7 linked regions of the Homo sapiens genome follow. The protein of the gene in region 4 purifies or fractionates together with the protein of the main gene of each other region. This does not show direct contact. Each region holds a gene or a part of one and is shown on either strand. Other genes may lie near its edges. The genes, in order: MIB1, SUPT5H, CEP295, OFD1, AKAP12, MCM10 and PLEKHM2.

What was found.
Region 1: the proteins of OFD1 (region 4) and MIB1 purify together in Homo sapiens (affinity purification with mass spectrometry; one large-scale study listed by BioGRID and IntAct). This does not show direct contact.
Region 2: the proteins of OFD1 (region 4) and SUPT5H purify together in Homo sapiens (affinity purification with mass spectrometry; one large-scale study listed by BioGRID and IntAct). This does not show direct contact.
Region 3: the proteins of OFD1 (region 4) and CEP295 purify together in Homo sapiens (affinity purification with mass spectrometry; one large-scale study listed by BioGRID and IntAct). This does not show direct contact.
Region 5: the proteins of OFD1 (region 4) and AKAP12 purify together in Homo sapiens (affinity purification with mass spectrometry; one large-scale study listed by BioGRID and IntAct). This does not show direct contact.
Region 6: the proteins of OFD1 (region 4) and MCM10 purify together in Homo sapiens (affinity purification with mass spectrometry, with the first as the bait; one large-scale study listed by BioGRID). This does not show direct contact.
Region 7: the proteins of OFD1 (region 4) and PLEKHM2 purify together in Homo sapiens (affinity purification with mass spectrometry; one large-scale study listed by BioGRID and IntAct). This does not show direct contact.

Annotation. Positions count from the first base shown.
Region 1 is NC_000018.10:21,817,018-21,821,063, forward strand, and holds part of MIB1 (E3 ubiquitin-protein ligase MIB1), read left to right. Parts: intron 1-606; exon of another isoform or gene 607-811; intron 812-2,477; coding exon 2,478-2,629; intron 2,630-4,046. UniProt on the Homo sapiens protein: E3 ubiquitin-protein ligase that mediates ubiquitination of Delta receptors, which act as ligands of Notch proteins.
Region 2 is NC_000019.10:39,465,820-39,469,865, reverse strand, and holds part of SUPT5H (transcription elongation factor SPT5), read right to left. Parts: intron 3,387-4,046; coding exon 3,297-3,386; intron 3,192-3,296; coding exon 3,121-3,191; intron 1,645-3,120; exon of another isoform or gene 1,573-1,644; intron 1,111-1,572; coding exon 1,005-1,110; intron 788-1,004; coding exon 694-787; intron 605-693; coding exon 468-604; intron 1-467. UniProt on the Homo sapiens protein: Component of the DRB sensitivity-inducing factor complex (DSIF complex), which regulates mRNA processing and transcription elongation by RNA polymerase II.
Region 3 is NC_000011.10:93,692,262-93,696,307, reverse strand, and holds part of CEP295 (centrosomal protein of 295 kDa), read right to left. Parts: intron 827-4,046; exon of another isoform or gene 812-826; coding exon 674-811; coding exon of another isoform or gene 635-673; intron 1-634. UniProt on the Homo sapiens protein: Centriole-enriched microtubule-binding protein involved in centriole biogenesis.
Region 4 is NC_000023.11:13,740,860-13,744,905, forward strand, and holds part of OFD1 (centriole and centriolar satellite protein OFD1), read left to right. Parts: intron 1-3,555; coding exon 3,556-3,660; intron 3,661-4,046. UniProt on the Homo sapiens protein: Component of the centrioles controlling mother and daughter centrioles length. Recruits to the centriole IFT88 and centriole distal appendage-specific proteins including CEP164. Involved in the biogenesis of the cilium, a centriole-associated function.
Region 5 is NC_000006.12:151,298,792-151,302,837, forward strand, and holds part of AKAP12 (A-kinase anchor protein 12), read left to right. Parts: intron 1-50; exon of another isoform or gene 51-142; intron 143-4,046. UniProt on the Homo sapiens protein: Anchoring protein that mediates the subcellular compartmentation of protein kinase A (PKA) and protein kinase C (PKC).
Region 6 is NC_000010.11:13,167,830-13,171,875, forward strand, and holds part of MCM10 (protein MCM10 homolog), read left to right. Parts: intron 1-3,092; coding exon 3,093-3,434; intron 3,435-4,046. UniProt on the Homo sapiens protein: Acts as a replication initiation factor that brings together the MCM2-7 helicase and the DNA polymerase alpha/primase complex in order to initiate DNA replication. Additionally, plays a role in preventing DNA damage during replication.
Region 7 is NC_000001.11:15,682,724-15,687,273, reverse strand, and holds the start of PLEKHM2 (pleckstrin homology domain-containing family M member 2), read right to left. Parts: upstream 2,955-4,550; 5' UTR 2,716-2,954; coding exon 2,656-2,715; intron 1-2,655. UniProt on the Homo sapiens protein: Plays a role in lysosomes movement and localization at the cell periphery acting as an effector of ARL8B.

The sequences.
Region 1 (4,046 bases), on a different chromosome or scaffold from region 4:
CTTGGGGACCTGCAGAAGGGTGTTCCAATCATGTTAGAAGCCCGTTTCAGGTTGAACACTACAGATTTTTAGTGCCGCCAGATACAGGAGTAGAAGGTAGATGGTAGATGGTTGGATTGAACTTGGGTTAGGAATTCTTTTTTTTTTTTTTTTTTTTTTTTTGAGGCAGGGTCTTGCTCTGTTGCCCAGGCTGGAATTCAGTGGCGTGATCATGGCTCATTGCAGTCTCAACCTTCAGGGCCCACCTCAGCCTCCCGAGTAGCTGGGACTACAGGTGTGAGCTGCCATGCCTGGCTAATTTTTTGTAGAAATGCCCAGGTTGGTCTCAAACTTCTGGTCTCAAGCAATCTTCCTGCTCCCACCTCCCAAAGTCCTGGGATTACCGGTGTGAGCCACCATGCCTAGCAGGAATTCTTTATGTAGGTGGATGAATATATTCCTGGGATTAGCAAACATTTTCTATATTGGGCACAGATAATAGTGGCTTATTGGCTTTTGCCACAACTATCTAACTCTCATTGCAGAATGAAAGCAGCCATAGATAATACATAAATGAATGGGTGTGGCTGTGTTCCAATAAAACTTAATTTACAAAAACAGGTGGCTCCAATGTGTAATATCCTGGGATATCATTTTTTCTAGGCTTTGTCCACATGGCTTAGGGGAGCATAGGGCTCTGCCCCATGATGTACAGTCCCTTTCCTCAGTGTTGGAGATGAAGCTGGGTCTGGTGTTTGCACTTTCATATTCCTGTAGCTTCTCAGAATCCTGTGGACAGTGACTGGGGAGACAAACCATGCAGGAAATATGTCTAGTAAAAAAGAATAAAACAAACAAAAAACAAGTGGCAAACTGAATTTGGCAACTGTAGTATATGCTGTAGGCCAGGTTGTATATGACTTTACTGAGAATAGCATCTGTTCAACTATGAAATGAATGAAATTTAAATTATTCATGTCTGTACATGACTGCTAATGAATAAAAACTTACTGCTAAGTCAATTGATTAATGTAAAAAGTAGTCAGCTTGAAAAAATGGTAGACTGAGATTGCTAAATTTTAATTTACAATTGTTTTACCTTTGGCTAACTAGCCACTTTGCTGCCCTTTGAAAACGCTTAGATTAATGTTTCTCACCTGTGACTGCACAAGATGTTCATCTGTGGAGCTTTGAAAAATTACTCATGCCTCACTCTCACCTCTAGAGATTTAGTATGGTGAACAGCCTGGACATCAGATTTTTTTTTCTCTTTTTTTTCCTCTGTACAACAGATTTTAAAAGATCTCCCCAGCAGGTTCTAATGAGCAGCCAAGTTTGAAAGCCACCGACTTTCAATTCATTGTTATGGTGTAGGTTTGGTATGGAATTTCAGGGTATGACAATTAAGGCCATTTTAAACTTATAAAATTTGGGGGGCAGCTTTATCACTTCACTGGTTTTTGTCATTAGTTATATTTGAGGCTACTTCTTTTCTTTTCTTTTTGCTTTGTAAAGCTTCAGCATGTGCCAGGAGTGGTGGCTTATGCCTGTAATCCCAACACCTTGAGAGGCTCATGTGGGAGGATCACTTGAGCACAGGAGTTCAAGACCAGCATGGGCAACATACTGAGACCCCCATCTCTACAAAAAAAGAACTTTGCCGGGCAAGGTGGCTCACGCCTGTAATCCCAGCACTGTGGGAGGCTGAGGTGGGCAGATCACGAGGTCAGGAGTCTGAGACCAGCCTGGCCAACGTGGTGAAACCCCGTCTCTACTAAAAATACAAAAATTAGCTGGGCATGGTGGTGGGTGCCTGTAATCCCAGTTACTTGGGAGGCTGAGGCAGGAGAATCGCTTGAAACCGGAAAGTGGAGGTTGCAGTGAGCTGAGATCGCGCTATTGTACTCCAGCCTGAGTGAAAGAGCGAAACTTGGTCTCAAAAAAAAGAAAAAAAAATTCCAGCATGCTTATTTTGTTTTCCAACTAGATTTGAGTATGTCTTTCCTTACTATAATGTGGCCAGTGTTTCTTGCCTGTATTTTTGTTTTTTATATTTTTGGAGATAGAGTCTCGCTCTGTCACCCTGGCTGGAGTGCAGTGGCATGATCATAGCTCACTGGAGCCTTGAACTCCTGGGCTCAAGCCATTCTTCTGCCTCAGCCTCCTGAGTACCTAGGACTATAGGTGCACACCGCCGTGCCCGGCTAATTTTTAAAATTTTTTGTAGGGACAAGGTCTCTATATGTTGCCCAGGTTGGTGTTGAACTCCTGGCCTCTGCTGATCCTCCCGCCTCAGCCTCCCAAAGTGCTAGGGTTACAGACATGAGCCAGCATGCCCAGCCTTTGCCTATATTTTTGTAGTTATCACAGAAAGTGCTCTTTTATTGGTATTTGTTGGATGTGGTCTCTGCTTCTGTTTGCTTAGCATTTGGTGTAAGTATTACTATTAGATGGGATAATTAATTGAAGAACTAATGAAAATTTCTTTAAACTTAAAGGATTCTGAAGGTGATACCCCTCTTCATGATGCAATAAGTAAGAAACGTGATGATATCCTAGCAGTTCTTTTGGAAGCTGGAGCAGATGTTACCATCACAAACAATAATGGATTTAATGCTCTGCATCATGCTGCACTAAGGGGAAATCCCAGGTATGTCACCCCTTACTATTTTAGGTGCAATTCAAAAATATTTTCCTACTGTTGATTCTCTTTTTCTGATACTGATGAAGAAATAATTTTGGCTATTTTAGTATTTTAAATCATTTTAAAGTTTTGTGAATATTATGCCTTTAGTTTTATATGATGATTATTTGGTTGTTAATCTAATACAAATATTATGAAATGATTATTTAAGTTTATATTAAATGTGGTTGTAAAATATCAGGAATACTAGTTTCTTTCTAAAGATTTAATTAAAATGCATTTTATTTTGAGATTTATGTTTCTTCAAAATAATTATCTGGGTGTCCTCTAATTTCATGTTGCCATTTGCACGATAATTATTTTTTAAAACTTAAGACTAAATAAATACTAAGTTACCTAATTCCTTATTAATAATGTAATTAGTTATATAAACTTCTAGTATAGCTATCCCCTCATCCATTGTTACAGCAATAGTATTCTACTGAAAAAAGTATTTGCTGGTTGACATTTGAGAAAGACTCCTTTTGGAGAATCACATTCTTTATGAAGGATCTGCGGTGTCCCACAGAATGGGAAAATGCTTAGCTTTGCTTAATTTAGAGATTTCCATTAACTCACTTTTTGGAACAACTTTACCCTAAGCATTTTAGGAAATTCTGCATTGGATGTCTTCTGTTTATGTTTGAGTCAAACCTGTATACCTGGACTAAGAAAAATCTTCACTTTGATTTTTATTTTGATAATTTTATCTATTCTGAACACTTATTCTTTGGTTCCTTATTGTATTTTTATATCATGTTTCCTTTAGCTTCTTAGGATCACCACTAGAGGGTGACCACAGGAAACAAAAGGATTTTATTGCTACTGCTTATTGGTAACTGTAACAGTGGGTATATATTGTAGGACAAAATGAATGATCATATTTTAGATCACATCTTGATTTTTTTTCCAAATTGCAAATATTTGAACACTTCAGATTTTGGCATTGTGAAGAAGACAGTAGTATTATATTTCCCTGCCCTTCAAACAGAAGATTATGATAGCACTTTCCACATGCCAGCCTCTGCAAAGTGCTTCACATGCATCATCTCACTTAATCCTTTCAACAGCTTTTTGGGGCAGGTGTTAATATCCTCATTTTACACGTGAAGAATATGAGGCTTATAGAGATGAATTTAATTATTCAAGAACACGTAGCTGATTACTGAAGCAGCTGTAACTTGAGCAAGGTCTAGGTGACTTTAGAATCATAACTGTTAAACCACTTTACATCACCTTTTCTGTATTATGGTCTGTCTGTGAAGCAAGACCAAAACACATGGGCAGTGAATGTGTCAATACCTCATTCCTCTTGCTGCTTCATTGCTTAGAGTTATCTTTGCTCTCTCACCAATTCTTAGCTTCCAACTAGTTTTAAAATTTT
Region 2 (4,046 bases), on a different chromosome or scaffold from region 4:
CCACACAGAGAGCCTGCCCCTCAGACACAGGACCCCCGACTGGACAGCTCCTCAGCCCCACCCGGAGACAGCCTCACCCCACACATCACACTGGGCCTGCACAACCCCTCAGACATACACCAGACACAGACAAACACACACCCCGCTCTAAGCAAACAAAGTCAAGCCTCAGATTACTCCTTGGTTAATCACACTCTCAACCCAGTACTACCCAGATATCTTGCTTTTCAGAAACAAAAGATAGACCAAGTCACTCTCCAGAGACAGACACCACCAGGCAGGCCTGCTGCCCACCGACCCTGAGCTGCACTCAGACAGAGCCTCTCAGGCACCTGAGAATGCTAGAAGGGCCTCAACTTACCCTCCTGGAAACCAGGTGTCACCAGGCACACCACCGCCTCGACAGCCACATACAGTCAGATGTGCCTGAACACTCCAACCCCTGCCCGAGAACACCGGGCACCCACCTTGAGGTCCTCATGCTTGGGCATGATGGTGATCTTGTTGCCATCCACGCTGAGGATCTTGCCCTGCAGGTTGATGAGCTCACCCTCACAGACCTCCACGTTGTCCCCAGGTTGGAAGTTGTGCTCCCGCTCCTTCCCTGCAGGGGCAGTCGTAGGGCTGACTCGGGGGTTGCCACCATGGGCCGCCCCTGCTCCTTGGCCCAGGTTATAGAGGGGGATCAAATACCTGTGCTCTCAGTCACCACCTCCAGGTCAATGCCCTCTGGCTGGTCCTCAAACTTTTCCAGCTCAGAGAGTGTTGGCTTCACACCCTCCGTGATCTAAGCCCCCAGCGGTGAGGGGAAGAGAAGGAAATGGACCGAGGTCAGTGCAACAGCCCAGCTGAGTGGGCTGAGTGGGTCCTAGGGGAATAATTCTCCTAGGGAACACTCCTAACTTGAGGAGTGGGACAGAACCAGATAACCCACAGCCCAGGGCATCACCTGCAGGAGAACACTCACACCACCCCCATTACCAACACCCCTCTGGGACCCTCACCACAGCAGACATGGCGAAGCTCTTGAACAGAAAGCCCTTCCGGCTGTAACGGTTCCCCTCAAAGATGAGGAAGTCACCATCAGAGGCAACATCACCCCCCAGGGACCTGGAATTTGATGGGGGAGAGAAGATTAGAAGGGAGAGTCAAGAAGAAAATCTTGCTGTACCTCAGTCTTCTCAGCTGGCAACAGAAGGAGAGGACCACAGGCAGACTGACCCATCCCATCCCAGCACACACCCTCTTGGCAGCAGTGACTTCTCACAAACCCCAAAGGCCCGCCTCCCACCTCCCTGCACTCCTCCACCCATTCCCTGATTTATCTTTGAGCACCGATCACCATCTGACAATCTAGTGTTTGACCTGTCCCCCTAACTAGCATGTCAGCTCCAGAAGGTCAGGGATGTAACATTCACTAAATTTCACCAAGAATAGTGCCCAGTACACAGAAAGTATGCAGTAAACATTAGCTGAACAAAATAACAGTTTCAGACAATGATACCAGTGAATATTCGCAGAGCGCTCAGCCTGGCCTGCACACTCATGACCTCACAGGCTCTTCCCCAAATCTGTGGCATCAGTAACTGCTCATCATTTCCAGGTGAGGGAATGCAGGCTCAGGAAGGTCACATCACATGCCCAAGGGTGCCAAGCCACAGTCTTGACAGGATTCAAAAGCAGGCAGGTGGGACTCCCAAGCCTGCAGCTCCCGGCCCCAAATGTGGAGTGGCGGCCGCTTAGTGCCTGTTCCGAGTCTCCGGGGTGGGGAAGGAGCCTCCTTCATGGAGGAGCAGGTCAAGTTCCTCCTGCGCTCATGCAATCGCCTTCTCCCATGGTGAATCTGGGAGAGGGGCCAGCATGCTCTGCTGGGCATGCTGGGGTACTTGGTCAGCTGGCTTGCTGGGGGGTAAGGGAGCACTAGGGTTTGTTCTTTGCAAAGAGAGGTTCAGGTGAGTCGAAACCAGTGGTATAAATGGGTCCGAACTCAGGCAGGTGAAGTATTAGCAAGGCCCTTGGGTGCAGACTCAAAGGTGCATTCCACAGCTCTTCCTTTATCTGAAGGAAAACCTGACTGGCTGAATCACACACAATTAGTTCTAGAACAGGACCAGAGGGAAGAGTGTCACTGGCACCTCTCGTTTCTCCATGTCCTCCTCTCCTGCCCTCCCTGCCGGAGCCCCCAGTTGGCCCTGGGATGTTGAAATTCCTGGGCTGCTCCAATTCTCTACCCAGCTAGGGAGTCTGGGGGGCATCCTGAGGGAAAGGCACTCCATACCCCCCCATCTCAAGTGGGCATAAGCAGATCAGGAAAGGAGACTTTCTAAAGCCTGACATAGTCCATGAATCCCATTTCAATATATCACACCATGGATCACACTTACTACGTGCCAAGGGCATTCTGAGTACATATGCATACTAATTTATTTAATTCTCACTATAATCTATAATCTGAGGAAGCAGAGGTTGTTTTCTTTTTTTTTGAGACGGAGTCTCGCTCTGTCACCCAGGCTGGAGTGCAGTGGCACGATCTCGGCTCACTGCAATTTCTGCCTCGTGGGTTTAAGCGATTCTCCTGCCTCAGCCTCCCAAGTAGCTTGGATTACAGGAGCTGACCACAACCCTTGGCTAATTTTTGTATTTTTAGTAGAGACAAGGTTTCACCATGTTGGCCAGGCTGGTCTTGAACTCCTGACCTCAAGTGATCCGCCCGCCTCGGCCTCCCAAAGCGCTGGGATTATAGGTGTGAGCCATCACGCCCAGCCTCATCAATCTTTTTAAATATTTTTTTAACTTTTTTCTTTTTATTATTATTATTATTTTAAAAGATGGGATCTCATTATGTTGCCCAGGCTGGTCTCGAACTCCTTGCCTCAAGCAAGCCTCCTGCCTTAGCCTTCCAAAGTGCTCCCTCCCGCTGCGCCCAGCCTCATCAATCTTTATAGCAGAAGAAACTGAGGCACAGGGATGTGAAGTGACTTGCCTGAGGCTATACTGCCAAGCTAACCAATTCACAGGCTAAACCTGTGGCGGGGCCACCCCTGGGGAGGAACCTGCAAAAGGCACATTCTACACACCGGCCCTGGGGACCCAGCCCAGCCAGTCCCCAAGGACACGCACCTGATCTTCTCAGCATCAAACAGCCTCTGTGGAGGCCGCTTAAACTTCTTCCTTTTGGCAAACCAGTCTTTCTATGGAGGAAAGGGGCATGGGTGGGAAGGGTGAGGGAGGGGGCTTGGCCACCAGTGGGATCGAGCACACTCCCTCCCCCCCAGGCCACAGATTCCCCTGAGTACCAAGCTCATGCGGGCCTTGATGCGATCGTAGTCGATGCGTGGGATCATCTTCAGGGAGATGGTGTTCTGGCTGGGCTCCACGTAGTCCACCTGAGCAGGGCGAGCAGAAGGTCAGCAGGGCCCCACTCTCCTCCCTGACCCCAGACACAAGAAGGGTCAGGAGATGCTAGGAAGGAGAAGGGACGCAGGATGGTGGGGAAGAAACCAGGCTGCTGACCACTCCCAAAAGTCCCACGCTAGCTTGTCTGTCCCCTCAACTCTGGCACTGAGTAGCCACTGCCTGCTTGGTATCTCCACCTGGATGTCTAAAGGTCCCTCAAATCCAGGACGACCGCAGCCAAACCGCTGATTCCCCCAAACCTGCCGCCTCCCACTCCATTCTTCCCTCTGCTCAGGCACACAACCTGGGAGCCACTCTTGACTCCTTTGTTTCTCTTACACCCACACCCGACCCGTTGGCAAATTCCATCAGCTCTGCCTTCAAAATACCTGACCTCTTCCCCTCCTCCACTGCAGTCTCAGCATTCCAAATCCAAAAACCCAAAATGCTCAAAAATAGGAAACCCTGTGAGCACCAACATGATGCTCGAAGGAAATGCTCACTCTTGGATTTTCAGATTTGGGATGCTCAACCGGTAAGTATAATGCAAATATTCCAAAAGCTGAAAAAATCTGAAATCTGAAAAACACCTGTGGTCTCAAGAATTCAGGTTAGAGACACTCAACGTGTATTAGGGTCTTGGTCCTATC
Region 3 (4,046 bases), on a different chromosome or scaffold from region 4:
AAAGTTACTAATTAAAAAGCAAATTTAGAAGTAAGTATTGAAGTATTTTTACATACAGTTCTATAATTGTAAACTTCCATACAGCTTTATTTTTTATAAAATGACTGGCATTTCCATTAGTAAGAAATGAACTAATCTGTCATTCTCCTTCAGTGCAGGTCCAAAAGCTCAACATACGCATTACCTACAAACCATGGTCGTATCTATTAGTATCCTATAGAAACTGAAAGATGAAAGCCGTAACTGATGCAAATTTATTCATATATACATACATTATATCAAAAAAAGACCAAATAAGAATTACAAAGGCATTTTACTTTTATTATTATTATTTTTTTGAGATGGAATCTCACTCTGCAACCTCCACCTCCCAGGTTCAAGCGATTCTCCTGCCTCAACCTCTGGAGTAGCTGGGATTACAGGCACGTGCCACCATGCCCAGCTAATTTTTGTATTTTTAGTAGAGATGGGGTTTCACCACATTGGCCAGGCTGGTCTCGAACTCCTGACCTGAAGTGATCTGCCTGTCTCGGCCACCCAAAGTGCTGAGATTACAGGCATGAGCCACCGCGCCCAGCCATCCATTTTACTTTTCTAAACGCTACAAGTGCTCATATTTTCTTGCCCCCCTTACCAAATGATTTATGTAGTGATGAGATTTTCTGCATCCTACCCCAGTCGGTTGAGTTTTTTTTCTTTTTTCTTCTTCCAGCTGAGCCCTGAAGCAGTCAGTTTCTAATCTTAATTTCTGCTGTTCAATTTGTTCAAGTAATTCCAATTGCTTTTGCTTCTGCTCTTCTATTTCCATTATCTAGGTAACAAAATACTATTGATCTATTAACAACAAACTCATACAAAGGCAAAGATAACACACGTTCCATTTAAAAGAAATTAGGTTTCTTCACCAAGGGTACCAATTTTCAAAGAAGTAAGTGTTGATGCTTTATCTCTGTTGTTATCACTGACAGACTGAGGATGGGAGTAAAAGATGGGAAATGGGAAAAAGAGAAAAAGGGATAGAAGTAAAAAAAGGCAGAAGGAAAAGAAAGAATAAATACATTAACTATTTCTACTTTCTGAGAGCACAGTGAAACCCTGATCACCACTGAAGAACTACCTTGAAGTAGCAAATGATGTACAGCCAAATTCTATGTTCACACATTTAATAGTATAAATAATGACTAAAGAAATTAAATATCAAGGCCTCCTAAAATACTTTGACTTCTTAACCATGCTCATTAAGAGGGATAGTTATCTAGAAGCAATGAACAACATTCTGTGTCTTTTTTGTCAGGCATGGAACAGAAGAAAATGGCAGAAAGATAACACATAAACTCTAATACTATACAAGCACACTCACACTCTAAGTAATATGAACATGTTTGAGTAACTATGAGTTTCATGAGGACAAAACTAGCCTGCCAAATCCAGCACCTTAGTCCCCTCCTATCTGCAATTTAGCTTTTGTGGTTTAATTACTCAGGGTCAACAGCAGCCAGAAAATCTTAAATAGAAAATTCCAGAAATAATTCATAAGTTTTAAATTATGCACTATTCTAAGTAGTGTGATGAAATCTTGCACTGTCCTACTCTGTACTGCTGAAAACATCAATAATCTCTTTGTCCAGCATATCCATGCTGTAAACTGGACCAGGCCATTTGTTACTTAGTAGCCATCTTGGTTACAAAAACTTGCCTGTTGCAGCATCACAGTGCTTGTGTTCAAATAACCCTTATTTTACTTCACAGTGGCTCCACAGCATAAGAGTAGTAATGCTGGCAATTTTGATATGTCAAAGAGAGGCTGTAAAGTGCTTCCTTTTAGTGAAAAGCTGAAAGTTCTCAATAAGGAAAGAAAAAAAATTATACGCTGATTGCTAAGATCTATGGTAAAAGTAAATCTTCTATCAGTGGAATTATAAAGAAGGAAAAATAAATTCACCCATAGTATATACAGGAATCAATATTATCCACAGTTTGGTACTATTAAGCATCCACTAGGGGTCCTGGAACATATACACTGTGGATAAGCAGGGACTACTCTACAGTCCCTGATAAACAGACAAGTATTTACTGAATAAGTAAAAAAAGGAATGCACGTTGTTTTCTTATATAAAGAGCAGCACTTCTACTAGAGATAATGAACAATGATCTTGTTTTCAAAATAAAAAATGTTTTGACCTGATTCTTTACCTATTCCTAGTTAGGCAACAGTGGCTTCAACTGAGTTCCCAGACAGTTCCTCTTCCTTACTTTCCCTTACTCATAGGAGCCCCTGAATTTAGACTGTTTACAGTTCTGTAGTACATCTACAACTGTACTGTCCATAGAGTGGTTACTAGCTTTATGTGACTACTTAAATTTAATTAAAATTAAATAAAACTTAAAATTTAGTTCCTCAGTTACACTATTTTATTCAACAGCCCATGTGGCTAACAGGTACATACTGTACATAGATATAAAACATTTCCATCATCACAGAAAGTGCTACTGAACAATACTGTTCTAGACTATTGATGAGAAATTTTTCTTTTTTTCTTTTTTTCTTTTTTTTTGAGATAGTTTCGCTCTTGTCGCCCAGGCGAATGCAGTGGCACAATCTTGGCTGACTGCAACCTCCACCTCTTGGGTTCAAGCGATTCTCCTGTCTCAGCCTTCTGAGTAGCTGGAATTGTGGGTGCGTACCACCACGCCCAGATACTTTTTGTATTTTTAGTAGAGATGGGATTTCACCATGTTGGCCAGGCTGGTCTCAAACTCCTGACCTCAGGTGATCCGCCCGCCTAAGCCTCCCAAAGTACTGGGATGACAGATATGAGCCACTGCACCTGGCCTGAGAAAGTATTTATCTGAGAAGAAATACTGGCTCACGGAATTATTCCCCAGCTGTATTTTTGAAAAAACTAACTAGGACTATAAACTGGCCTGCTTAGTAATAATTAGCCTCCTTCGAGGTAAGTTGGGTTAAAAAAATATTTTATTAAAAGTAGATGAGACCAAAGTCATAAGTTAAGGAGGATTTTTTTTTTTTGAGACAGAGTCTGGCTCTGTCGCCCAGGCTGGAGTGCAGTGGCGCAATCTCGGCTCACTGCAAGCTCTGTCTCCCGGGTTCACACCATTCTCCTGCCTCAGCCTCCTGAGTAGCTGGGACTACAGGCGCCCGCCACCATGCCCAGCTAATTTTTTGTATTTTTAGTAGAGACGGGGTTTCACCGTGTTAGCCAGGATGGTCTCTATCTCCTGACCTCGTGATCCACCCGCCTCAGCCTCCCAAAGTGCTGGGATTACAGGCGTGAGCCACCGGGCCCGGCCTTTTGTTTTTTTTTTTTTTTTTTGAGATAGAGTCTCACTCTGTCATCCAGGCTGGAGTGCAGTGGTGTGATCTTGACTCATTGCAGCCTCCGCCTCCTGGGTTCAAGCAATCCTCCCACCTTAGCATCCTGGGTAGGTGGGACTACAGATTTGTGTCACCACACCCAGCTGATTTTTGTATTTTTAGTAGAGACAGGGTTTCACCAGGTTGGCCAGGTGGGTCTCAAACTCCTGGGCTCAAGTGATCTGCCCACCTCAGCCTCCCAAAGTGCTGGGATTTCAGGCATGAGTCACTATGCCCAGCCTAAAGAAGTTAAAGTTTAGCTTGGGCAACATAGCAAGACGTCATCTCTACTAGGAAAAAAAAAAAATTAGCTGGGCATGGTGGCCTATACCTGTAGTCCTAGCTACTCAGGAAGCTGAGGTCAGAGGATTGAACTGAGGAGGTCAAGGCTGCAGTGAGCGATGATCGTGTCACTGTACTCCAGCCTGGGCGACGGAGCAAAAAAAGGGCGCTGTATATTAAAAGTTTTTCCTCTGAAGTATTATTTTTCAAAAAACTTGTGGGATTACAAAGCCCATCTGAGTGTCTAATATTATGACAAGGACTTGTTAATTCAACAATTATTTATTGTATACTTGCTATGTACAAAGCATTGTATCAGAAACTGTGTAGGATAAATTGAATTTTTTAAAGAAGATAGTCTCTGCTTTTTAAAAGCTAATAAATTTTA
Region 4 (4,046 bases):
CGGGCGCAGTGGCTCACGCCTGTAATCCCAGCACTTTGGGAGGCTGAGGCGGGCGGATCACGAGGTCGGGAGAGCAAGACCATCCTGGCCAACATGGTGAAACCCCGTCTCTACTAAAATACAAAAAAAAGTTAGCCAGGCCTGGTGGCGTGCACCTGTAGTCCCAGCTATTTGGGAGGCTGAGGCAGGGGAATCGCTTGAACCCAGGAGGCAGAGGTTACAGTGAGCCAAGATCACGCCACTGCGCTCCAGCCTAGCGACAGAGCAAGACTCCGTCTCAAAAAAAAAAAAATAGTTTTTACACAGTCTCTTTAAATGCATCTGGTTCAGAAAGACATCTGGCCGACAGCCCTTACCAGCTTCACCTAGCATCCCAGTAAAATTTCTGGAAGCCAGAAAAACTATGAGTAGCAGATAGGTCAGGCATCCTAGTGCCAAAATTTGGATAGAACTCTTAGCTAACAAAATAGCTCCTGGTAAGATAAAATTTTTTTAAAAATTGGTGTCTTCTAATTAAGTAACAGAAAACATGTAGGAAGATATTGTGTACTTAACCGTTGTCTGTCCCCTGACTCAGACCTATGGTCTTATCCTACCATATCTATGCTCAGGGGGTGCTAAGCTGTTGAATGGCCTTGGTACTTTTCCTCCTAGATTCTAGTCACCCATTCTTCCCACTGCTAATTTTCCTTTCAGAGATAATGATATCTGTTATGCGTGTCTGTGTGAAGAGACCACCAAACAGGCTTTGTGTGAGGAACAAGGCTGTTTATTCACTTGGGTGCAAGTGGGTTGAGTCCGAAAAGAGAGTCAGTGAAGGGAGATAGGAGAGGGGCAGCTTTATAGGGCTTGAGTAGGCAGTGGAAAGTTACAGTTAAAGGTGGTTATTTATTGTTAGCAGGGGAGGGGGTCCCAAGGTGCATGGTGGAGAGATCTTGGGACTCATTGTCCAGAAGAAGAATGTCACAAGGTCGATTGATCAGTTGGGGCAGGGCAGAACAAGTCATAATGGTGGAATGTCGTAAGGTTGGTCAGTCAGTTAAGGCAGGAGCTGTTTCACTTCTGTGGTTTTTTAGCTGGCTCCTGCAGGCCATCTGGACGTATATATGCAGGTTACGGGGGTTACAATGGCTGAGCTTCGGCTCAGAGGCCTGACAATATCCAGAAAATGATGTGCACAAAATTTGGATGAGGGAAGAAAATTTGGACATCGGCCCTTTGCTTTTTGGAAGTAAAAATTCTTATCTGCAATTGGCAAAAGAATAAGACATATACATCAATGGGGACAGAATTAGGAAGTCCAGAAATACATCCACACAAATATAGTCAATTGATTTTTTTTTTAACAAAGGTGCAAAGGCAATTCAATAGAGGAAAGATAGTCTTTTCAACAAGTGGTGCTGTAACAGTTGGATATTCATATGCGCAAAAATGAACCTAGACACAGATCTTATTTATTATACCTTACACAAAAACTAACTCAAAATGAACCATAGACCTAAATGTAAAATGCAAAACTATAAAACTTCCAGATGAGAACAGTAGAAAGTCTGTGATCTTGGGTTTCGTGATGAGATGTAACACCAAGAGCAAGATACATGAAAGAAAAAAGTAGATCAGTTAGACTTTATTAAAATTAAAAACATCTCTGTGAAAGACACTGTTCTTTTTGTTTTGTTTTTGAGACGGAGTTTCACTCTGCCACCCAGGCTGGAGTGCAGTGGCGTGACCTCGGCTCACTGCAGCCTCTGCCTCCTGGGTTCAAGTGATTCTCCTGTCTCAGCCTCCTGAGTAGCTGGAACTACAGGCGCCTGCCACCACGCCTGGCTAATTTTTTTGTGTTTTCAATAGAGATGGGGTTCACCATGTTGATCAGGCTGGTCTCGATCCCCTGACCTCAGGTGATCGCCTGCCTCAGCCTCCCAGAGTGCTGGGATGACAAGCGTGAGCCACTGTACCCTGCCAAAAGACGCTGTTAAGAGAATGAAAGACCCAGTGTCGAAACCCATAGAGCTTTACGTCATCAAGAGTGAACCTTAATGTTTGCAAATTTAGGTCAGGTGATCCCAGGATGGTATGCAGACTGTGACAAAATCTAATCCCCTTCCTGAAGGGAGTGGGGGTGGGGGAAAAGGTGCTGAGCTAACTACTGTTTTTAGTTCCAAGAAACTAAACATTTCTTAAGTAATTTATGCTTGTGGTTTAAAACAGTTTCAAACTATTCAGAAGGATATAAAGTGAAAGCAAAGTAGCAGTTTCTGCCCATGTTCTCTAATCTCACGCTCCACTGATAACTAGAATTAACAGTTTCACTCCACTGATAACTAGAATTAACAGTTTCTTGTTTATCTTCTAGAATTGTTTGAGGTTAAAACTATGTATTTGTAATTAAAACACAATCAATTGGGATTATATCGTAGATACTGTATGCAATTTGCTTTTTTTAATCCACCAATGTATCTTTCTGTAGCAGTATAGACTAATTATTTTTAAATAATGTATTTAACCCCCTATTGATGGAGATCTGGTTGTTTTATTGTTTGCTTTTTGCCATTACAGGTAACCTATGTGCAGTGTGCACCCTTTGTGCCCTTGTGAAAGTATACCTGTGTAAATTCATAGAAGTGGAATGACTAGATTAAAGGGCACATGCATTTCGAATATATATAAGCACTGACAAATTTCTCTTCCAAGTGAATGAGTATAGCTATATATCCACTCCCTTGCCAACACTTAGCATTATACAAGTTTTAATCTTAGCAGTGTTATAGGGAAAATAATGGTTTCTCTGTTGTATTAATTTGCATTTATGATTTTGTTCATGTTTATTCAGCATCTAAAAATTGTGTTCATCTTTGACAATGTAGTTTTTTCTGCAAACTACCCATGTTTTTCCCCATTTTTCTGATTTTTTTTTTTTAAACTGATTTGTAAGAGTTCTTTGATGTTATGAAAATGTCATCACTTTAGTCTTGGTTATGCCTCCATATTATTGCAACTATTTTTCCCAGTGTGTTATTTTTTTATTTTATGCCATATGTAAGTTTTCAGTTTTTATGTAGTTAGATTGATAAATATTTCTCCTTATTCCTTCCAGGTTCTGTATCATGCTTGGGAAGGCCTTTTCTCAGATTTATTAAAAGATATGACTGGGCACAGTGGCTCATGCTTGTGATCCCAGCACTTTGGGAGGCCCAGGCAGGAGGATTGCTTGAGGCCATGAGTTTGAGACTAGCCTGGGCAACATAGCAAGACCCTGTTTATACAAAAAGTAAAATTAGCTGGGCGTGGTGGGTGGTGGTGTGCACCTCTAGTCCCAGCTACTTGGGAGACTGATGTAGGAGGATTGCTTGAGCCCAGGAGGTCGAGGCCGCAGTGAGCCATGATTACACCACTGCACTCCAGCCTGGGTGACAGAGCAAGACTTTTGTCTCTAAAAAAAAGGAAAGATATATAATGTAAAAAATGATAATGTCCTAAAACTAAGATTGTAAAAACAGTGACTGAGCAGTGGTTGAAAGTTCTGAAACAAAACTGTATGCATATGTTTTTTAGGTTTTCTTATGCATTTTTTAAAAGAATTGGCAGAATATCATCAAGCTAAAGAGAGTTGTAATATGGAAACTCAGACAAGTTCGACATTTAACAGAGATTCTCTGGGTAATTATAGCCTTCTTTCTTAATTTCAGTTCTGCTGTTTTCATTTTGAATGAAGGAAATTATCTGATTTACCATATTGTGTGATTGCTCCTTGAACTGGAGGGATGCAGCCGGCAGGCAACAAGGGAATTCATTTCTGGAATCATCTTGGGGGACCAGGAAGTGCTCTCCAGTGTCATTCCCTAGCCTCATGAATGCCAGGGCTACACTGGCCAAATCATGCAGGGATTCAAAGGCCCATATTCTTCCTTGTTTGTTGAGTTTGACTTCTCTTAACTGGGAGGTTCTTCCTCGTGTCTTGTCTAACTTTACAGCCACCCAGTTAGAAGATTATAAACTACTTGCTTTGCAAAGTACTAGAGAAGTCAGTGACTTATCACTTCATT
Region 5 (4,046 bases), on a different chromosome or scaffold from region 4:
TCTCAAAAAAAAAAAACAAGAGAGAAAAATGAAAAAATTTTTTTCTTTTTAAAAGCCAGTCAAGTTTAGCAGTGTAGGGTTGTATACCGACTTTAGTAACACTGATGTTAATTTCTGATAACCCACTACCATCGGACCAGCCTAAAAATGAATTCTTAACTCCATTTTACAGAGAATGGGGAAGATATGAGGGAGGTAAGAAATGTGCTCAAGGTCGTGAAAGTAACTTCCTTAAGGCGGAAGCAAATGTATATGAAACACACTTGTGAAATGGGTACATAATGCATAGGATACATGTGTTCTCTGTCAGGAGCCTGTAGTGGCCTGCTGTAGAACTGTGATATGCTTGGCTCCGTCCCGTTCAATGTTTTTGATGAATGGCTTAGCTGAGGACATTAATATGTTATTTACATTTGGAGATGATATAAACAGAGGAGTTAAAGCTCCAGCAGTGTGGCCTGTTGGCCTAGATGATCTTAAAAGATTTATGAACCCTGGCAAGCAAGGTTATTAACATGCTTGAAGCCTAAGAATCTATGAGTTTTAGGGTTCAATGTATTTTCACTTCTACAGTGATAAAGTGAGTAAAAAGGAAACCGTGTCTGTTCTCCCAATTTCCCTCTAAGAGGATAAAACCAAACAACAACAATGCCATAGAGGTAACCATTATTAAAGATTTGGTACATATTGTTCCAGACTTTAAAAAAAATGCTTACACAAACATTGACTCCTTTTCTCTCTCCCTTTTCCTCTTCCTCTCCCTCTTTGTCAGTGGGTTATTTTTGTTTAGTTTGGTTTTAAACACATAAAAGAATCATTCTCAGCAACTTGCTTCTTTTCCCCCTTAAGCCAGGGACATCTTCACACATGAGTGTGTCTAAATCTACCTCATAGCTTTTGATGTTGTCTATTGCATGAACATTTCATAATTTAACTACTCCCCTCTACTGATAGACATTTAAGGGTTTTTTTTTTTTTTGCTATTATGAAGTATTTATTACTTATTTATTTTTCCTTTGTAGAGACTGGGTTTCAGTTTGTTGCCCAGGCTGGTCTCAAACTCCTGGCTTAAAGCCATCCTCCTGCCTCAGCCTCCCAAAGTGCTGGAATTATAGGCATGAGGCACCACGCCCAACCCTATTATAAGTTATTATGTGTTGCACCTCATAAATATGTAATGCCATATCTATTAGAATGGCATGGTGTAGCTAATGGGTTTGCGTATTTAAAATTCTATCCCTATTTCCAAATTGCCTTCCAGGGATATTGTTTACTGATTTGTACTCTGGTTTTTATTTTTTTTGTTTGACATTTTTAAAGATTTACTTTCAAAACACTTTCTATTAGAATGAAGGAGAAAACACAATGAAGAGGTTTCTTTACAAGTTTTGTCGTGGGATTTAAAATTCCTTCCAGATAATCTTTAAGTCTGATGATTTGATCATTTGTGGGTGTGTCCTGGTTATATTGGCTTCTGGTTCCTTCCCACGAAGGCCACTTACAGGTTTGCTTCTTGGTCATACTGCCCGGGGTGGGACGAATTGCCCCTTTGGAGCCTCGTCTACTGTGTGAACTGCAGGAGTGCTGGGCCACTTGCACCCGGTCGTCCAATGAGGATGTAGATCTGGGAGTATCACTTCTGCAGTGAAAAGGGTTGCTTTGGTTGGCTTACCTCCTCTGCCCCTGGCATCCTGACAGCTGTCAAGGGCTCATCATTTCACAACTTCATTAAACAGCCTGGTACTCCTGTTTCTTACTCTGCAAAGGAGGTCCCTAGCACGTTGTGGACTCCTGTGGAGAAGGAAGTGGATGGAGAAGTCTCCTAGTTTTTCTGTGGTGCCTTGGCTACCACTTGGACATTCTTGGTTGTTGTTCTTACAGAAATGAGAGGAAAACACTGTTGCTGGAAACATTTGAGGTTTTTAGGGTCTTTTTTTTTTTTAACAGCTTGTTTAGTTGTAATGTGGTAATACTTCATGGGAATAAACTCTGGCTGACCCACTCAAAGGATATAAGCTTGAAAACATTTAGGGTTTTGATTTGTTCAAAGGAGGCATTTGTGCTTTTTGAAGCACAAATCCAGTGGGAAAATAGGTTTTCTGGTGCTTACCATGTTTAAGTGTAAGGAGCGTGTCTTTCAAGTCTAGTTCTCATCTCAAAAGAAATAACTATTTATAAAACTAAGTTCAGGGTGGAGGGATAAAGCTATGCGAGGAAGCTTCGGAGTGGAAAAAGTGAAATATACATTTCCTCCTTCTTTCTTGTTTGGTAACAGTTAAGTCCCAGTATTACTTTCCTCCCTGAAATGGGTGGTCCTCGAATCCCATCTGGCTCCAATGAATCCCATCTGGTTCCACCGCCTCCTGTCCCATGTGCCACTATGTTGTGTCTGCATCTTTCAGGGTCTCTCTGGGCAGAGCTGTGTGTAAATCCTGTCTTCTGTGGCCATTTGAGTTGCAGACAGGAGAGACTGATTGAAGTTAAGCAAGGTGCGTGTTTATTAATAAAGAAATGTACCCACAATGTATGAAACCATCAGGTCATAAAATAACACGTGTTCCCCATTATTTTTTAAGTGAATGCTTGTGCCTGTATATATACACACGTAGAAAACACAGAAAAGACTTAAATGAATGTAGGTTTGATTTCCTCTATTTGAGGTGACTTTAACTTATTGATAACTCTCAGAAGTCCGTGAATTTTTAACAACGGTATGACTTATTTAGACGGTTTGGGGATGGAAGAAAAAACAAAAACACTTTTGATTTGGAGTGAAATAAAGGGAATTATCCATCTTTAACAACACGTGGGATTTGCAAAAGTGTGGACATGTCTGAATGTGACAATCTGACTAGGAATGAAGTCCCATTTTGTGCGGATGTTGGTGCCTCATAGGCTCTGAAAGCTCACCTGAGACATCACCCTTGAGGTCAAAGCTTGGGTACCCTGGCGGGACGCAAGCTATTCACATAGTAAAATAGACTCAAAACTCAGGTTCAGTAACGTCACTGTCATAAATCGTTTTCTACCGAAGTTAATAATGTATCTACGGCCTTTCTCAAGTAGGGACAGTTACCCTGTGGTTACTGAAAATTAGTATCTCATAATGTATTCATTATCATACTTAGGATGTAAGGATGTGTAGCATTTGACCTCAGTTTTTAAGGGTCCTTCTTTTTATCATCTAATGTACTTTGCTATGTGTGTGTAACATCTCTTTTTTTTTTCTTTTTTTTTTTTTAAGAGACGGAGTCTCCCTCTGTTGCCCAGGCTGGAGTGCGTGATCTCAGCTCGCTGCAACCTCCGCCTCCCAGGTTCAAGTGATTCTCCTGCCTCAGCTTCCCTAGTAGCTGGGATTATAGGCGCACACCACCACACTTGGCTAATTTTTTGCATTTTTAGTAGAGACGGGGTTTCACCATGTTAGCCAGGATGGTCTCGATCTCCTGCCCTCATGATCTGCCTGCCTCGGCCTCCCAAAGTGCTGGGATTAAAGGCATGAGCCACTGCGCCTGGTGTAACATCTCTTTTTTAAATGATGTTTTTATTTGGAGACGAGGGTCTCTCTATGTTGTCCAGGCTGGCCTCAAACTTTTGGGCTCAAGCAATCCTCCTGCCTCAGTCTCCTAAGTGCTGGGACTACAGCGCACGTCACAGTGCCCGGCTCAGTAACATTTCTAAAAGAGTAGACGGAAATTTGTGCCTGTGTGCTATAGTCTTCATGTTTAAAGAGACTCAGTTTGGCTCCAACTAAAGATACCTTGGATTGGGCAATTCACAGAGGATTATAAGAATTTTTTCAATAATTTTAGGTACTTGGTAGAACCCTAAACTCTATAGAACTTCAGAGTTCTGGTTCCTAAATAAGAGGCACAATTGACCGAAGTTTATTGCATTGAAATTGAGGTATTAAGATGGCTTTTTTATGTTCCCTGTTTAGTTTGCCATATCATGAAACTGTGTATGTCAACAGTTTCTAGGTTTAAGATTCACTGGGTTACCATGTAGCCCACGATAATATGTGATTCCTGCTTTCCTCCCCCAAC
Region 6 (4,046 bases), on a different chromosome or scaffold from region 4:
AATGCTTTCCATTCAAGAGGCTTCCAGGGGTAGCCAGATTTCTGTTGTAAGAGCCACTGGGGATCCGAGAAACGTGCTGATAGTAGATTTCACATCCCAGGGGTTTGAGAACAAAGAGGCTGGGAGATTGAGTCAGCGTAATACAGAGAAGACATGATTTTTGGTGGTGACTGAGGTAAACGGGGTTGTGAGGCACCATGGGATTAGCCCTCGTTCTCTTGTGAAGGGTTCAAAGTGAATAGTATGGGGTCCCCAGGCAGCATTTTCCACCTGTGGCCCCCAGTGGTGTGAGCCAGAGCCTCTTCCCGGGGTGTGCCCTCTTTGGCAGACGGGAACAAGAGATGGTGGAGGCCTCTTTGCTTCCTTGCAGGCATGTGACATTCTCAGAGCACAGGGGGCTGCCTGGCCTCTTCTCTCTTGCACTGTGCAGCCTTGGAGTCTTTGTGGACTAAGCAACTCAAGCTAATCCTTATACAACCTCTGACTGAGCATTAGGCCCCATCATCAGATTCTAGGCCTGAAGTTTGGCTACTGGCTTTTTCCTTCTGGTAAGGGAGTGTAGAGTGGTGGAAAGGATATTGGTTTGCTGATCTAGAGATTCCTTATTAACCCAGCTCCTGAACTGATCTGTTTCTCCATGTGATCCTGAACAAGCCCCTCACCCTCTCATACTCTAGCCCCTGAATTTCAGACAAGGAGAGTAGGTCAGATATCCTTAATATTTTTCCATTGAATACCTCTGATTTTATAAACAAATAGTGCCCAAATAGGGGGGAAAAAAGAGCAAAGAAAATAGATAAATCAAGAAAGAAGAAATCCGATTGGCAAATAAACAAACAATTCTTAACCTCACCAGTAATCCAAGAAATGCAAATCAAAACAGTGAGATGCCTTTTTAAATCGTCCATCAGATTGACAAAAAAATATTTAAGTGACACATCAGATATTGATGAGGTGGTGGGGAGAAGTGGCCCTTGTGTACAGCTCTAGTGAGAGTGATACAGATGATAGCAATTATTTAGGGAGATAGTAAGGGCAACAGAGTCCTCAGCAGAATTTCCCTTTTAGCAAAAAGCAGCCCCCAAGTAATTTCTAACAAGGCCAGCCAGAAAAATCAAGCGGACATAGAAAAGCAAGCTAGTAATTTGCACGGATGAATACCTGCAGCTGTGCCAATAGGAAAAGGCTCCCTGGGGGCCAGGCGTGTTCAACATGGCGGCCCTTTTTCTGTGTCAACCACGTGTACAGTAAAGAAACAGACAATATGGCGCTGGCCAGGTAGAGAACCACCTGCATAATAAAAGATTAGGGTGGGGCAGCCAGGTTTTCCACCCTATGCAAATGGCATACCTAGTCCAGCCAATCTTTTATGTCCTGTGTAAATCAGACATTGCGTCCTCAAGCTCGTCTATGAAACCCCATGCATTTTGCCATGGACGCGGCAACCCATTTCTCTGGGACCTCTCTGCTGCCGAGAGCTCTTCTCTTTCTTTTGCCTATTAAATCTCTGCACTTAACCTCACTCCTTGTGTGTCAGCATCCTTGATTTCCTTTGCATGAGACAACGAACCTCAGGTATTACCCCAGACGAACTATGCCATTTCAAGAGTGCATCCACTTTGAGAACAATTTGGCAGCATCTAGCAAAATTGGAAAACGTGGATACCCAGCAATCCAGCAATTCCATTTCTGATAGATATTCCCAAGAAACACATGTGCGAGAAGACGGATACACGATTACAGCGTATTTAGTAGTGGGGAAAAATTAGAAATAGCCCATATTGTCCTTTATTGGAAAATGGATTAATGAGGTGTGATACAGTCTTATTATAGGATACAATATAGCAACGAAAAGAAAGAAACTAGAACTATATGGGGTTTTTTGTTTGTTTTTGAGATGGAGTCTCGCCCTGTCACCCAGGCTGGAGTGCAGTGGTGCGATCTCGGCTCACTGCAACCTCCACCTCCCAGGTTCCATCAATTCTTCTGCCTCAGCCTCCTGAATAGCTGGGATTACAGGCACGGGCCACCACGCCCAGCTAATTTTTGTATTATTAGTAGAGACGGGGTTTCACTTTCTTGGCCAGGCTGGTCTTGAGCTCCTGATGTCAGGTGATCCTCCTGCCTTGGCCTCCCCAAGTGCTGGGATTACAGGCGTGAGCCACCACGCCTGGCTAGAACTATATGTTTTGATTTGGGTTAATCTTACAAGCAATGTTGAATGAACCTGGAATGCAGAGTAATGCAGTGTGGAATATTTATGTAAATATTTTTAAAACCATCTAATATAGATTGACTATGACTGCCTATATATTTATGTAAAAGCATAAGAATGGACTGGAATGATGCCTCAAAATTATGAAAGTGATTACAATGGGAAGTGGGGGCAGTGGTCAGGAGTTGGGATAAGATTTGGCATGACAGACTTCATCTGGAAGGTGTTATTTAATGTTAAAGGCAAGAAGCAAACAACAAAATGTTAATGATGGCTAATTCTGGGTGATGGGATCTTAGTATTTTTTATATAGTTTGTATCTTTTTTTTTTTAAATCTCAAATAATTTGAAGGTCAGGAATTATATACATCTAAAGCCTAAATCTATGTTTGGTGTTTTAAAATTATTCCCTTGTTGGTTGAATTTCATGGAAGTCGGTGTGCGGGAAGCTGTCTCATTGATTGGAGTAGAATGCTTGAGGACATTTGGCCCCGTGGCTGGCCCACTCTACTCACTAAGCAGTATTGGCTCCTTCTTAGCCCAGTGTCCCCTAAGAAGCACCTGGGGACAAGAAAGATGGAGACAAGGAGAACAAAGACCAGGCAAAATGGTGCATCTGTAGGTTTTTGTTTTTTTTGTTTGTTTGTTTGTTTGTTTTTTTAGTTTCAGCTTTCATTTTAGATTCAGGCTTGTTACAGAGATGTATATATAGTGTGATGCTGAGGTTTGGAGTATGGTTGAACCCATCACCCAGGTAATGAGCATTGTACCCATTAGGTAGTTTCTCTTACCCCCATGGGGTCATTTAAATTGCCTAAAGTTGAATGTTTGGAATTAGCCGTGCTTATTCTCTGTCCTTTCTCTTCTTTTCCCCTAGAGGAGGAAGACAATCTGTCTCTGCTGACCGCACTGCTGGAAGAAAATGAGTCAGCCTTGGATTGTAATTCAGAAGAAAATAACTTCTTGACGCGGGAAAATGGCGAGCCCGACGCATTTGATGAGCTCTTTGATGCCGACGGCGACGGTGAATCTTATACAGAAGAGGCTGATGATGGAGAAACAGGAGAGACAAGAGACGAAAAGGAAAATCTGGCCACTCTCTTTGGAGATATGGAGGACTTAACAGATGAAGAAGAAGTTCCCGCATCACAGTCAACTGAAAATAGGGTCCTCCCTGCTCCTGCCCCCAGGCGAGAGAAAACGAATGAAGAGTTGCAAGGTGCCCTAACTACTTGCCTTCCTTATTTCTTTCGGATAAGTTGGATGAAGACCACCAATCTGATAGTTGTCATCAAAATAGCTGCTGATTCAAGGGTAGAGATAAATGACTTTGTAAAAAAAGAAAAAAAGAAAGAAAATTATATGAGTTGGTAGATGAAATGTTTGGGCCAGCATTTCAGCACAAACTATAGACTCTATCAGTGTCAGCCAGCTGCACTTGATCCTGTACGGAATGGCTCTGAAACTTTTCATATTTCTTATGGAATAGTAGCACTTTGGGATGTATGTGGATGTGGAGCCAGAGACAAGGTTGCAAAGCTGCCACATATCTATTTGAGCAGAGCATTCCTGAACAGAAGCTTTGACACATGTTCTTTTCTCATTCCTGGCATCTCATACATGTTTAAGCTATAGTAAAATTCAATGGTTAGCTGTTTCTTCTAATACAGAAGCCAGCATTTATTATATTAGTTATGATATCCAATTTATGAAGTAAATATAATTTTTTTTTTTTTCCGAGACAGATTCTTGCTGTGTCACCCAGGCTGGAGTACAGTGGTGCAATCTTGGCTCACTGTAGCCTCCACCTCCCAGGCTCAAGTGATCTTCC
Region 7 (4,550 bases), on a different chromosome or scaffold from region 4:
AATGGCGTGAACCTGAGAGACGGAGCTTGCAGCGAGCTGAGATCACGCCACTGCACTCCAGCCTGGGTGACAGAGCAAGACTCCATCTCAAAAAAAACAAAAAACAAAAAACAAACAAACAAAATCTTCATAACACAGCCTGACCAATATGGGCGAAATCCCATCTCTACAAAAAATACAAAAAGTAGTCGGGCACGGTGGCTCATGCCTGTAATCCCAGCACTTCGGGGGGCCAAGGCAGGCAGATCACTTGAGGTCAGGAGTTCAAGACCAGCCTGGCCAACATGGGGAAACCCCATCTCCACTAAAAATACAAAAATTAGACGCTGGGCGCCGTGGCTCACGCCTGTAATCCCAGCACTTTGGGAGGCCGAAGCGGGCAGATCACAAGGTGAGGAGATCGAGACCATCCCTGGTTAACATGGTGAAACCCCGTCTCTACTAAAAATACAAAAAAATTAGCCGGGCGTGGTGGCCGGCGCTTATAGTCCCAGCTACTTGGGAGGCTGAGGCAGGAGAATGGTGTGAACCCATGAGGCGGAGCTTGCACTGAGCGGAGATCAGGCCACTGCATTCTAACCTGGGCGACAGAGCGAGACTCCGTCTCAAAAAAAAAAAAAAAAAATTTAGCCGGGTGTGGTGGCGCACACCTGTAATCCCAGCTACTCGAGAGGCCGAGGCAGAAGAATCGCTTGAACCTGGGAGGTGGAGGTTGTAGTGAGCCGAGATCACACCACTGCCCTCCAGCCCAGGCAACAGAGCAAGACTCTGTCTCAAAAACAAACAACAACAACAACAACAACAAAAAAACACTCCACAACATCCCTAATTTTATCCCTGCTTTACAGATGAAGAAACTGGGCATGGAGAGGTTAATAAGCCTGACCAAGGTTACAGGGTTATTAATTTGGCAGGGCGGGGATTCAATCAGGCAGCTGGACTCCAGAATCCATGCTCCTAACAATGATGCTGCCCATGGCTTTGGTTGTGATACACCCAGGGATGGGTTTGCAGTTTCTAGTGTGACATTTTCTGGGGTGCATTCCAGCTCAATAAGTGTCCTTGTCCAAACACCTACAATTATATGCACCTCAACAAACACACCTAACTCATAAGTGACAGCCTGACTTACAAAGTGAATCTCTGCCTTCAAAAGACTCATGCTTATACATGTGACAGCGTGCCCCATGTCTACTGCCTCTCCATCACAGACTTTCTCCATTCATTTGTTTGAAATCCAAAGACAAACGCCGGGCCTACCTAAAGCCACAATCAGCCCAGATTAGATTAGAAAGGTCACCTGTGTTCCTTTCTCTTCCATTAGGAAAGATGTACTGCTTCTCAACAAAGTATTTGCTCATCCTGCCCTCCTTGAGTAAGCAAAAACCATACCCCATTACATTAGCAAAGCTCAGTAAAACTACGTAAAACTCTTGTTGGATCTCTGCAATGTTACTTTAGCTGTGCTTTTAGAGGAATGTTTTCAGTAAGGGCAATTCGAGAATCTATTTTCTTTTTAAGTCACATTTATCTTTATGAAAGGTAAAATAGCTTGCCTGTGTTGCTTTTGAGGAATCTCAGTGGGAAAACAGACAATTATTTAAATATGATGGTTGATCTAATTAATTCTATCCATTTTGCTTCTTCAAGTAAAATAAGCTGCTGAGTCCCTCACCCAAGCCATTTTCTTTCTCTTTTTTCTTTCTTTCTTTCTTTTTTTTTTTTTTTTTTTCAGTTTCTGAGACTATCTGGTGAGCCAGGAATTCAAATTACACAAACACACACACAGAGAGGGAGAGAGAGAGAAAAATCCATTCTGATTTGGCCATTTAGGTTTTCAGTGAATATGGATTCTTTTAAATTTATTATTATTATTTTTATATCCAGCCCAAAAACGTCAGAATATGGATTCTACCTTCTAGCACGGACCCTTTTGCGGATATGCCAACTTCATCACAAATACATGCCCTTGACAGGTATGTACTCATTTCTACCTGGAATTGGGACAGTGATGTTTACTGCGGCAAGCCCCACAGCAAGGTGTCTGTGGTGTCACCCGGTTCCCCGGATCAGCATCCAAAATGCAATCCCCATGTACTTCAGGTTCTTATAATCAAAGCCCCTAGTGAACCTCTTCAAAGCTACCATCCTTGAGCAAGATTATTCAGGGGACTTCCCAGGAGCAGAGGCAATGTCGCCGGGACCCAGGCCATGGGAAAGTGAAGTTGCTTATCACTGGCCTCCACCCTGACTGCCAGACCCTGGGCGACGCCAGCCTGGCGGGGGGACCCGGGGATGCAGCGGATTCCACAGGAGGCTGCATGGGGTTCCTTCAGGAGCTCCCGGGGGCGCCGCTGCCCCAGTGGGGGACCGGAGGGTCGCTGACCCCTCTCCGGGAGGGCAGGGCCCCGGGCCAGGTTTGGGGAAGCTCCGAGGATGCTGACCTCAACTTTGTTCTTTAAAAATAGCTCCGAGGCCGCGGCGCTCACGTGAGCGGCGCCGCTTCCCCTCTACCGGCCCGGGGCTCCCGGCCGCTCGTCGCCCCCCGGGTCGCGGAGGGGAAGGGCGGGGGGCCCCGGCCCGGGAGAGCGCCGCCGGAGGGCGTGGGGGGCGCGGCGAGGAAGGGGCCCCGGCCGGGAGGGAGGCCGCGCTCACCTTCTTCACCGACAGCGAGATGTTCTCCAGGATCCGGTCCTTCACCTCCCCCGGCTCCATGGCGCTGCCACCGTCGCCGCCACCGCCACCGCCACCGCCGCCGCCGCCCCGCCGCCGCTTCCCGCGCCGGGGGCCGGGGGCCGCCGCCAACCGCTGCCGCCGGCCGTACGGGGGCTCCGTCGTGCCGGCCGCGGGGCCCGGCGCCCGCCGCCCGGCCCTCGCCTCGCCTGGGCCCTCGCTCCACCGCGGCCCGGAGGCTCCGGAGCGCGGCCGGCGGGGAAGGAGGCCGCGGGCTGTGCGCCGCGGCGGCGGCGGCGGCAGGAACTGATGTCAGGCGGGGCGGCGCCAGGGCCCGCCTGCGCCTGGGGACTCCGGGGACCCGGAGACCCGCACAGACCCTTGGCCGCGGCCCTCCCCAGAGACCCCGAGACCCGCCCCCAGCCCTCCTCAAGTCACAGACTCTCCCCGGCACCCCAGAGACACCCTCAGACCCCAGGGACGCCAGAGACCTCGACCCCGCCTGCCGGGGACCTCGGGGCTCCTCAGAGACCCTCCCCAAGCCCTCCTCAGCCCACAGATTCCTTCAGGGACCCCAGAGACACCCTCAGACCCCAGGGACTCCGGACACCCCGACCCCGCCTGCCAGAGACCCCCACAGACCCTGGGACCCCGGCCCTCCTCGGAGACCCTCCCCCAGGCCTCGTCAGCCCACAGATTCCCTCAGGGACCCCAGAGACACCCTCAGACCCCAGGAACTCCGGAGACCCCGACCCCGCCTGCCCGGGACACCGGCCCTCCTCAGAGACCCTGGAGACCCTCCCCCTCAGCCCTCAGGCCATAGACTCCCCCCTGGGACCTCAGAGACACCCTCAGACTCCAGGGACTCCGGAGACCCCAACCCCACCTGCTGGGGACCCCCACAGACCCTGGGCCCCCAGCCCTCCTCAGAGACCCCCAAAGACCCCGAGGCACTGGCCCTCCCCAGAGACCCTGAGACCCTCCCCACAGCCCTCCTCAGCCCACAGGATCCCCCCACAAAACCCCAGAGACTCCCACAGGCCCCAAGGACTCTGGAGACTCCGACCCCACAGGCCAGAGACCCCCACAGACCCTGAGACCCCGGCCCTCCTCAGAGACTCGAGACACCCACAGACCCTGGGCCCCCTCCCGCCGGCCCTCTTTAGTCCACAGACCCCTCCTTGGAGACCCCAGTGCACCCCACTAACTCTGGCCAGGGACCCCAAGACCCTCTTAGCCTGCAAGCCCCACTTATCTTCCTCCCCTTCCTTAGCCCAGCCACCCCCTCAATGTGCAGACCCAGGCCCCCTGGCTTTCGCAGCCTGGAGGACCCAGCACCCCCACCGGGTCAGCCTAGACTCCAGTCCCCAGCCCTAGACCCTCCCTGGGCCCCCTGGCCCTCCACAGCCTCCCCTCCTCAGTGCCTCACCCTCAAGGCCCAGTCCTACATTTGAGGTCCCTGGTGTTCCTCCCCACCCCCAAAACACACCCTCCTCACCTTCAGCCCCAATGCCCCATTCCCACTCCTTATCCTTATCCCTCTTCTTCAGCCCCACGTATCCCAAGGGCCTCAACTCCCTCAGCCCCTGAAACCCACCGTAACAACTCTCTTCCCACACACCCTCCTCAAATCCACCATCTCATAAAGCCCCTGCACTTAGAGGTGTCAGTCTCCTACCTGGCTCTCTTCCCTCCTTAAGTTCCCAAATAAATATATCCTGACACATAGATTAGTCCCTCCTTTTTATTCTCAGACACCCCAGTTCTCAACTCTGGTTCCCTGGTCTTCCCTCTTCTCTGCTCAGGCCACCCCATCCCTGAAGTCCCCTTAGCATCTGAAATACTGATTCATTGCTTATCTCAGAGGGACCCCACAA